Regions from separate parts of the Homo sapiens genome. Here region 1 is linked to region 2. Evidence: fine-mapped expression QTL. Tissue or cell type: whole blood. Region 2 holds a variant in brackets; the other region holds the start of a gene. All regions are shown on one strand. Distances are from middle to middle.

Region 1 (5,214 bases), 76 kb after region 2:
AGAAGTTGCCTCCCAATTTCCCCTCTGCCAACAGCTGATAGCTGCATCCTTGGCATCTGCCTCCTGGCCTTGGCAGGATCCATTTTTATGATTTACAATGCATCATCAACCAGAAATACAATGAGAACCACCTGCCAGTCTCCCAAATACTATCTGCAGCCACTCATTTAACTCTCCTGGCTAGCTCCACGTGGGCCGTCTGAACTCTCTTAGAAGAATCATCTCTCTGCTCAGGCACCGGGAGCAAGGGGCATCTGTCGCTCTGCAGAACGGAGGGGACCAGGCCTGATGAACACCATCCTGGGCCCAGAAACCTGGGAGGGTAAAGAGAACTGCCAGGGGTGAAGTCAAGGATGGGAAAAAGGCCTCCGGGGCAGAGTCCTGAAATGTCAGAAGTACACCAAAGAGGAAACAGCATCACGTTATTGCTGAGGCAGGGCCTCATTCTGTTGCCCAGGCTGCAGTGCAGTGGTGACACCATGGCTCACTGCAGCCTTGATCTCCCAGTTTCAAGTGATCCTCCTGCCTCAGCCTTCCAAGTAGCTGGGAAGACAGGTGCATGCCACTGTGCCCGGCTTTTCTTTCTTTCTTTTTTTTTTTTTTTTTGTAGAGACAGGGTCTATGTTGACCATACTGGTTTCAAATTATGCTCCTGCCTCAGCCTCCCAAAGTGCTGGGATTAAACATGTGAGACACCGTGCCCAGCCCACATGGCCTCATTTAAATCCCACAACAACTCTAATAAGACACTAATATGTCCAGGTCACAGATGAGAAGAGGGAAGCCAAAGGAATAACTTGCTGAAGGTTATGGAGCTAGGATAGGACCCCACAAGGTCTTGCTCTGGGGGCCTGCATCAGTAACCAGTACTCAACATCAAGGAAAGGCCTTGGGGCCGGGCGCAGTGACTCGCACCTGCAATCCCAGCACTTTGGGAGGCTGAGGCGGGTGAATCACTTGAGGTCAGGAGTTCGAGACGAGCGTGGGCAACATGGTGAAACCCTGTCTCTTCTAAAAATAGAAAAATTAGCCAGCCACGGTGGCGGGCGCCTGTAATCCCAGCTACTCAGGGGGCTGAGGCAGGAGAATCACTTGAACCCGGGAGGCAGAGGTTGCAGTGAGCTGAAATCGCGCCACTGCACTTTAGCCTAGATGACAGAGTGCAACTTGGTCTCAAAAAAAAAAAAAAAAAAATCTTGGAGCAGCGTTGGAGAAGCTCCCTCTGTCCCCTCTCTACTGGCTGCTGCCCCTCTGAAATGGCCTTTCCCTTCCCAACAGATCCTTGAGATTTGTTTAGAAGAGTCTGGAGAGTGAGCGCAGAGGCTGACTCACTGCGTGACCTTGCTCTGCCAGTTAGGAGATAACCTTCCCATAGATGCCACTTTCCACATCAGTAGTTTTTTTTTTTAAGGGAAGGGGAGCTGGGGGAGAAGGCTTTTGGGGCCTTCCTACTGTAAAAGCTCAAGTTCCTTACACTCACTGCTTTCTCTCTATTACATCATCCTGCTCCCTCCCCACCCCCAAGGCTCTTAGTCTGAAATGATCTAATTTCTACCACCGGAATGACTTGTTCTCTACAGTATTCTCAGAACTTGCTACGTGGTAGGAGGTCAAGAACACACTGAATAACCCACCTCTTCCCACCCTCCTAAGCCTCCTGTCCCATCCATGCTCTACTATTTCTCGTAATTATTGCCTTCTAATACAATATCGTTACTAAACATCTTTATTGCCTGTCTCATCCTGCCAAAATGTAAGCTCCAAGGCAGATTTATTTTTTAAGAGACAGGGTCTCGCCATGTTGACCAGGCTGGACTCCAGGTTTCCAACAATCCTTCCACCTCAGCCGCCAGAGTAGCTGGGAGTACAGCGCGCGCCACCATGCCCAGCTTCAAAGGCAGAAATTTTTGTCTGTTTTGTTCACTGCCATATCCCCAGAACCTAGAACACTCTCTGGCAAATAATAAGCAATCAAGAAGTATTTGTCTAAGAAAGGAATGAATTCTGATCCCAGTGAGGCTCGTAACCAGACGGCAGAGCGCCTGGGGCGAGGAGGTATTACAAAACTCGTGCCAAGTAAGGAGAAAACTAACAGCGCCGTAACACTACTCAGGTCCCTCCCGGCCCCGGATTTCTATGACCGGCGTTCTAAAGTGGATAATCCTAGGCTCATCGGGTTCAACTCCTCTCATCTAACGGATCCTAAGAAATCCGAAAGGGAGAGGACTTTGGCTCAAGGTTCCCAAGCTAGTGGTGAGCAGACAAGGATTCGAACTGCACCCTTCGAGAAACTTCATGTCTGAAAAAGTTGCGAAACACAAGGGCGCTCAAGTGATCCCACGGTTCAGCCCGCTGCTTGCACAGGTGGGAAACCTGAGGCCGAGGCGGGGACTCCCATTACCTCGATAATCTTGATAAAGCGCGGGAACACCGGGTTGCGGGTGATGGCGATGAGCGGCAGGTGCGGAAACACATCGGGGATCGTCATGGGCGTGAGCGCCGTTATGACCGGGCCTTCCCCGGCGCCCGCGCTGCCCCCCGCGCCGCCGGCTCCTTCCTCCGCGCCGCCCTCGGAGGCGTCCTCGCCCCCCGAGAATGCGCCTCCGCCGCGGCTGCTCGCTTCCCAAAACCCCCGCCATTGGCCCCCAATTGCCGGGCCTCGGCCCCACAGTGCCCAAGGAGGAGAGGCGTCGCAGGTCCGCTGGCCTCGGAGCAACCACGCTCCTGCTGCAGTGGGAACCCGCCCCCCGGCGGCGGCCAGCATCGGCCGCCGCAGCACCCAGCACCGCGCCGCTCCCCACAGTCGCACGTAGCCAGTGCTCGCCGCCATAGCCCGGCCATACTGGCGGCTCACACAACTCGCGTCATTTCCGCTCGCCGCGAAACGCACGTGACGCCCGGCGCGTGCCTCGGTACCCGATGGGCGCGTGGCTCGAAACAGCCGCTTCAGGGAGCTGGGCCTACGCGGAGAAGAGGGGGCGGAGTTCGAGCATCGGATCGTCTCCGCCTCTTCCGGTCTCCCACTTTATGCGCTGAAGGCCTTTTCCGGTCACGTGGAAGGCTGTGAGCAGGCGCCAGCGCCCGTACAAAACACTGGTAGTGTTGCAAACGCAACGTTTAGGAACTCATGAGCAGCCTGTGCACATGCTTAGGCGCGCGGACAACATGCGCATGCTCAGACTCTAGACTGGCCACGGGTGGCCGGGTGCGCATACTCAGGCTCTGAGCGCACTTTGGGGTGCGCGGATTCGGGCTTCCCGGGATTCGTCTGCGCATGCTCAAGATTCAGGCGGAGCGCCGGGCTGCAGTGCGCGGAGGCCCGCTCCCGGGACTCATTGATGCGCATGCGCAGGGCTTCAGCCTGCACGTACTCGGATTGTGCAGCGACTCCCCGTGGCGGTTGAGGGGCAGTGGTGGCGGCGGAAGCCCAAGTCGATGCTGATGTTGATGCTGGTGGCGGCTGTGACCATGTGGCTCCGACCGCTGGTCACAGCTCAGCTCTGTCGGTGGGGCTGCCAGGACTCCTGGGGCTGGGGTGCTGCCGGGGGTCGGGAGGGTGCTGGTTCATCTTGGAGCCGAGGCCTGCTCCCCAACCTCACTGAGGCTCCCCTTTTACTCTTTTTAGGAATCGAACTTGACGCCTCGCTCACCCTACTCCACCCCATCCTCCCAGCCCGATATTAAGCTCTCCTACCTCTTTTTTTTTTTTTTTTTGAGACGGAGTCTCGCTCTGTCGCCCAGGCTGCAGTGCAGTGGCGCGATCTCGGCTCACTGCAAGCTCCGCCTCCCGGATTCACGCCATTCTCCTGCCTCAGCCTCCTGAGTAGCTGGGACTACAGGCGCCTGCCACCACGCCCGGCTAATTTTTTTTTGTATTTTTAGTAAAGACGGGGGTTTCACCGTATTAGCCAGGATGGTCCCGATCTCCTGACCTCGTGACCCGCCTGCCTCGGCCTCCCAAAGTGCTGGGATTACAGGCGTGAGCCACCACGCCGGGCCTAGCCCTCCCACTTCTTTTTCTTTTTGGAGCCGGAGTTTTTGCTCTGTTTCCCAGGGTGGAGTGCAGTGGCGCGATCTCTGCTCACTGCAACCCCCGCCTCCCAAAGTGCTGGGATTGCAGGCGTGAGCCACCGCGCCCAGCCTTACCCAGCACATTTTGAAATTTCAGTAAATGTTAGGTTAGTGCATACTCCAACCTGCCATGGGGACCAGTTGCTGAAACTCCGTTCCTGCCCTCAGGGAACTCCCATCTGGACTAAACTGTCACATTCAGTAGGGACCTGTGAGCTGTATTCTTAGGGTGTATGGCCTCATTTGATGTTTACAGGAAGATTCATAATGATTCCTTAACCTTATTTTATTTTATTTATTATTATTTTTTGTACAGATGGGGTCTCACTGGCTGGGTGCAGTGGCTCACGCCTGTAATCCCAACACTTTGAGAGGTAGAGGTGGGCAGATCACTCACTTGAGGTCAAGAGTTCCAGACCAGCCTGGCCAACATGATGAAACCTCGTCTCTACTAAAAATACAAAAATTAGCCAGGCTTGGTGGCAGGTGCCTGTAATCCCAGCTACTTGGGAGGCTGAGGCAGAAAAATCGCTTGAATTCAGGAGGTGGAGGTTGCAGTGAGCTGAGATCGCACTCCAGCCTGGGTGACAAAGGGAGACTCTGTCTCAAAGGAAAAAAAAAAAAAAAGAGATGGGGTCTCACTGTTTTGCCCAGGCTGGTCTTGAACTCCTAGGCTCCAGTGATCCTCCTGCCTCAGCCTCCCAAAGTGTTGGGATTACAGGCATGAGCCACCCATGCCCAGCCATACCCTTATTTTATTTTTTTGAGATGGAGTCTTGTTCTCGTCGCCCAGGCTGGAGTACAATGTCACGGTCTCGGCTCACTGCAACCTCCGCCTCCCAAGTTCAAGCAATTCTCCTGCCTCAGCCTCCAGAGTAGTTGGGATTATGGGCGCCTGCCACCACGTGCAGCTAATTTTTTGTGTTTTTAGTAGAGACAGGGTTCCACCATGTTGCCCAGGTTGGTCTCGAACTCCTGACCTCGTGATTCACTTGCCTCGGCCTCCCAACGTGCTGGGCTTACAGGCGTGTGCCACCGCGCCCGGCCAACACCCTTATTTTATAGATACGAAAGCATACTTAGGAAAGTTAAAGACACACTTGCCTAACAACACATACCTAGTAAGTGGGAGAAACATTTTCC
Region 2 (5,493 bases):
AGTTTCGCTCTTGTTGCCCAGGCTGGAGTGCAGTGGCGCAGTCTCGGCTCAGTGCAACCTCCGCCTCCTGGGTTCAAGTGATTGTCCTGTATTTTTAGTAGAGACGGGGTTTCACCATGTTTTCCAGGCTGGTCTCGAACTCCTGACCTCAGGTGATCCGCCCGCCTAGGCCTCCCAAAGTGCTGGGATTACAGGCGTAAGCCATCGCATCCGGCCCTTCTTTTTTCTTTTTAAGCATTAAAAATGTGCATACTCGGGCATGCGCAGTTTCTGTGGGAAAACATGTTCCTTAACTAAAAGGCAGCACATTTGCAACAAATAATTTTTCCCTCAAACAAGGACACTTGGGATAGGAAGAAGGGCAGAGCTGAGGACAGGTCTGATCCTGTTCAACTTTACTAAGAACCTGTTTTCTGCACTTCTACTTCCACAGCTCAGACAAGAACAGAACCTCTTCTGCTTGGGGGTGGGGCAGGGCTGTCTTGTGCGGAATGGCCTCATTCCTGGATTAGGAAGTGTTCCTAAGTAGTGAGGTGTCTCAGATGTTTATAAAGTGACCACTTGTGTAGTGCTCAGGGCATTGTTGCTTCTGTAAAGTGCGTATCATTTGATCTCATGCTGTAAATGATTCTGTCTTCAGGGCGCAAACCAGAAGAAGAGGGTGTGGAAGATAACGGGCTGGAGGAAAACTCTGGGGATGGACAGGTATGTGCAGCCTTGCGAGTGAGTAGCGTGGTGGATGGACCAGTGGCGGTCACATGATGGTTCGGTCTGGTTGTGTCACAGGAGGATGTTGAGACCAGTCTGGAGAACTTGCAGGACATCGACATCATGGATATCAGTGTGTTGGATGAAGCAGAAATTGATAATGGAAGCGTTGCAGATTGTGTCGAAGACGATGATGCTGATAACCTCCAGGAGTCCCTGTCGGATAGTAGAGAGCTAGTCGAGGGGGAAATGAAAGAGCTTCCGGAGCAGCTTCAGGAACATGCTGTAGGTAACCGGCAATGTCTCTAGAATGTGCCCTGAATGTATCAGTTCCACAATTAAAATAGGTGATCAGTTTCATATTGGGAAGTAAGTTGTTCTGTAATGCCAGTTCAGTAGAATAAGGGTCAGTTGGTTCAGATGATTCTGAACCAATTTGTTTTGTTGAAAGGTGATGTCTTATAACATTTCATATGTACTTGCTATCCATTTGCGGCATACAGTATGAGACATTTTGAGGACAACCATTCAGACTCTTCCTGTTGCCGGACTTGATCTGTGGTGTTATGGCCTAGGTACCTTGAAAGCATTGAACTAGGAAGAGGTTAGAAGTTGGTGTTTTCCTGTTAAGAAGCAATTGTTGAGCTGGGTGCCTTGATGCACTCATGTAATCCGGTAACTCAGAAAGCTGAGGTGGAAGGAGCAGCCCAGGAGTTCAAGGCTGTACTAAGCTATGATTGTGCAATTGAAGTCCAGCCTGGGTGGCAGAGTCTGACAGAACCCTATCTCTTGTTTAAAACAAACAAACAAAAAAAAAAACACAGCCAGTTGATACCTATCTTAAGAGTTAACCTCAAGTATTAACCTGGATGTTGTTTTTAAACCTAAATTTTTTTCCTGTTAGAAACATATCAAATGGATAGTAAGATTATAGTGGGTAGTATTTCCTGAATACTACCTACCAGGCATTGGCATTATGCCCTTCCTTTCTTTTTTTTTTTTTTTTTTTTTTTTTTCTGAGACAGAGTTTTGCTGTTGTTGCCCAGGCTGGAGTGCAGTGGCGCGATCTCAGCTCACTGCAACCTCTGCCCCCTGGGTTCAAGTGATCTCCTCCCTCAGCCTCCCAAGTGAGTAGCTGGGATTATAGGCGCCCACCACCAAGCCCGACTAATTTTCTTGTATCTTTAGTAGAGACGGTTTTCACCATGTTGGCCAGGCTGGTTTTGAACTCTTGACCTCAGGTGATCCGCCTGCCTCAGACTCCCAAAGTGCTGAGATTACAGGTGTGAGCCACCGCGCCCAGCATGTGCCCTTTAATTCTTCTAATAGCAACATGAGGTGCTGTTGTCCCCATTTTCAGTTGAGGAAATTGGGAAGGCAAGAACTAAAAAACATCTCCAGATGACACACAGCTCATAACAGAATAAGAACTAAGATCAGGCTAATTCCAGAGGCCATGTACTTAACTTATGTACGATGTTGTCTTGGTGCCATTAATTTGATATTAATTTCATTTACCTGATGATTAATGTTTGTCAGACAGAAAAAGTGATGCATATGAGAAGCTGTGGGGCCCTTTCTGTGTTGGCTCGTGGGGGGCCCTGTTCTTGTCCTGGTCCTTAGGTCTTCCGCAGTGAGTGCTTCTCAAGCAGTCTTGGTGGACAGAAACCTTGTTGTATGCCAGTCAATCCGCTTCTGCATTTCTTCAGAATATTTTTGCATTTCCTCTTGGAACTGATTCCAAGTATCCTTAGAGGTAGCAGATTGTCATATTTGAATGGAGGATTTGAGTCTGAGAAGTGGCTGAGAGTTATTCTGATACAAATAGGGTGTGCAATTTTTGGTGAGTCCCATTCATCAGCTTCTAAAAAGGAGTAGCAGAAACACTTGCACAGCAGCAGGAGTTACTTACCCTTCCTGAATGGCTGCATCTTCTTAAGGCTGTTTTTTTCCCTCCTAAGCAGAAAATCATACATT[C/T]TGCAACAAAAGCTGGAAACATCCTAAATGCCTGGAAGCAGTTTAGTTTTAAGGGTTGAGGCCAGGTGCGGTGGCTTGGCTGGGCACAGTGGCTCACACCTGTAATCCCAGCTACTCAGGAGGCTGAGGCAGGAGAATCACTTGGACCAGGGAGGTGGAGGTTGCAGTGAGCCAGGATTGTGCCACTGCACTCCAGCCTGGGCGGCAGAGTGAGACTCTCAAAAAAAAAAAAAAAGAGTTCAGAGGTAGATTCTGGAGATGGATCAATTTCTGTGTGTCCCTGGACAAACTCCTTAACCTCTGCTCCTCACTTGCAAGAGGTTTTCGGAAGATTCAATGGATGGATGTTTATTATACACTTAAAGCAGAAGTCATCAAGTTGGCTGTCACCTGGGTTGTTTTTGTTTTGTTTTGTTTTTGTTTTGGGGTTTTTTTGTTTTTGCTTTGTTTTGCTTTTTTTCAAGACAGGGTCTCATGGTGTAAATGAAGTTTTCTGAGAGCACAACCACACCTATTGATACTGTTGTCTATGGCTGCTTTTGTGCTTTAGTGTCAGAGAGGAGTCCTGACTCATCTGTTCTACAATTCCTGAAGAATTTACTAGGCAGCTCCAACAAAGTGTTTCCCAGCCTAGTTCAATGCCTAGCATCTAGAAAGCACCGTAGAGTTATGAAATGTACCACCACGAATACAGTTTTTACTGCAGTGTAACCATCAAAATGAATTAAGCACATCTGTGTGAACTCAAACAATCTCCAAAAGAGAAGTGACACTTGGGGAGGGTTCAGAATGATGTGCTGCCCCTGGTGCAGATGTCTAAGGGGAGATGGTCTTTGGCACTTAAACACGTGTGTAGCATATGCGATGACCACTGCATGGCAGGAAGAAAGGAGTAGTGGAGAGTGGTTTTCAGTGAATGGGCTTTTGTACCTTTTGAGTCTTCTGATCGTGTGCGTGTCTTTCCTAGTGAAATATAGTGATAAAAATACATGCTGGTTATAAAATATCTGAAAACGTCTCCCCCTAAGTATATCTCAAATTTCAGGGCTTTAGAGCAGATGGCCAAAATTGGTTTCAGTCACAAATTATCTGAACCCCCTTTCTTTGTTTGGGGAATCCTTTGCCTTATTGGGCAGAGCCTACTTCTTAGAATAAAAGCTATTCTTCCCCTGCAAGTAGGGCATAGGATATTGCCAGTCTCGAGCTCCTGTCCTCACCCTCATGCTGGGAGATGCTGTTCCATTGAGGGAGGTACCTACCCCAGGGGCAGCAGGTCCCACATCCTCAGCATCCAGGCTGGGCGAGCAGCGGTGGCTGAAGGCTCCACTTCAGCAGGACTCTAGCCATTGCTCCTGGAAGAACAGCCCTCACCCTGTGCTCAGATCCACTTAGAGGCTGTGCACTCATTTTCATCTCTTTTCTGTTTGACTTAGACTTTTTTTCTTTCTTTTGCATCTTAAAACCTACATAGCTACCATATTAGTAGATTTCCTAGTCTATGTGCAGGTGGACATTTACATACAACTTTTTTTTCAGTTTAGCTGCAATTATACTATAATAGTGTTTTGATTTCTGCCCTGGGTTTAAAATTTTGTTGTGAATTATTTTCATAGCTGTTCACTTTTCATTGTACAGATGTACCATTATGTTACGTTATTGTTGGTGTGATGAACTGTATTTTCTCCATTTATTTTACAGATAGAGGACAAAGAAACTATAAACAATTTAGATACTTCATCATCTGACTTCACTATATTACAGGTAAACTGTTGTATGTCTCAGTACTTTTAGAATGAAAGGTCAGACCACAATTTCTGGAATCCATTTCAGACACCATATGCCAGTTCCAGCTAATAATCACCACAAGGGTTGTTTCCTTTGTCAGGATCGTTAATGGGTGTTTGCTTTCTGCTTTCCTCCAAATATAATGTACGCATTGCCAGGGACTTAACTCTAGGCTTCGACGAGTGGCCTCCAAGCGCTGTGGCTTACCAGCAGTCATTAGAGTCATGTTTTGTGGCATTCTTAATTTCATTGCTTGTGGCAGGGGAAGGCAGCCTGTCTCATCTACCCTGGGTGGCATCCCCTGCAGAAAGATGATTTGATGAGACAGCAAGAGGGCATGGCTACCTGGGAAAGATGAGTAGGGCCCAGATGGGGATTGAGGGTTGACAGAGCCCTGTTGGGGAAGGTGGGGTCTCAGGGGTTCTGGTCTTGTCTTTGGGAAGTTTTTTTTGTTTTGTTTTGTTTTGTTTTTGTTTTGTTTTTTCTGAAATTGCCCAGATTTCATTTAATGACTGTATCATCCTACCTGTTTCATTGGCATCTCTGTAAATATTAAATCTTAGATGAGAACAGATGAGTTGAGAATTTCCAGGTATGATTTTTATATTTGTGGGTCTTGAGTTTCCTTTTTTTTTCCAGCCTACATAGATACAAATTGTTAGAACACACTTACCTAGGTAGCTGGCTAATTCTTAGGAGAACTTTTTGTGGAGAAATGAAGATCGAGCCAGCTTTTGCCCAGCCTTTTTATTTATTTATTTTTTTTCCCGTCTTCTTTTTAAATGTCATCTATGTTATTGTAATTAGAAATCCCCTTTTGGAAAAGATCTCCATTTGCTTCTGCCATGCAAGGGCAAGGGAGATACTGGAAAGCCAGAGCTCCAACCTTGAGGAGGGCACAAATCTCAAGAAAACGTGGTGAAACCCAGTTCGCTTTTAGAGCTGCCGTCTCTCCACCTGCAAATTGACACGGCCATTCCCGACTCAGAAAGGAGAGGAGGAGCCGGATCTTGTCACTTTCCC

What was found. PIP is the estimated chance that this variant, and not a neighbour inherited with it, causes the effect.
Region 1: LONP1 starts here. The variant in region 2 is fine-mapped to the expression of LONP1 in whole blood (INTERVAL, PIP 0.97).

What each region holds. Positions count from the first base shown.
Region 1 is chr19:5,717,303-5,722,516 of GRCh38, forward strand. It overlaps LONP1 (lon peptidase 1, mitochondrial), which reads right to left and starts at 2,844. Exons shown (of 18, transcript NM_004793.4): 1 at 2,402-2,844. The coding sequence starts at 2,830. CATSPERD (catsper channel auxiliary subunit delta) reads left to right here and starts at 3,335. Exons shown (of 22, transcript NM_152784.4): 1 at 3,335-3,506. The coding sequence starts at 3,436. RefSeq lists enhancers at 459-975, 976-1,491, 2,525-3,041, 2,994-3,093 and silencers at 2,454-2,533, 2,664-2,713.
Region 2 is chr19:5,640,954-5,646,446 of GRCh38, forward strand. SAFB (scaffold attachment factor B) reads left to right here. Exons shown (of 21, transcript NM_001201338.2): 3 at 641-705; 4 at 787-993; 5 at 4,384-4,446. Among named protein-coding and RNA genes, the nearest start is that of SAFB, 21 kb to the left of the region's middle. The variant C/T (reference allele first, on the strand shown) is at 2,686.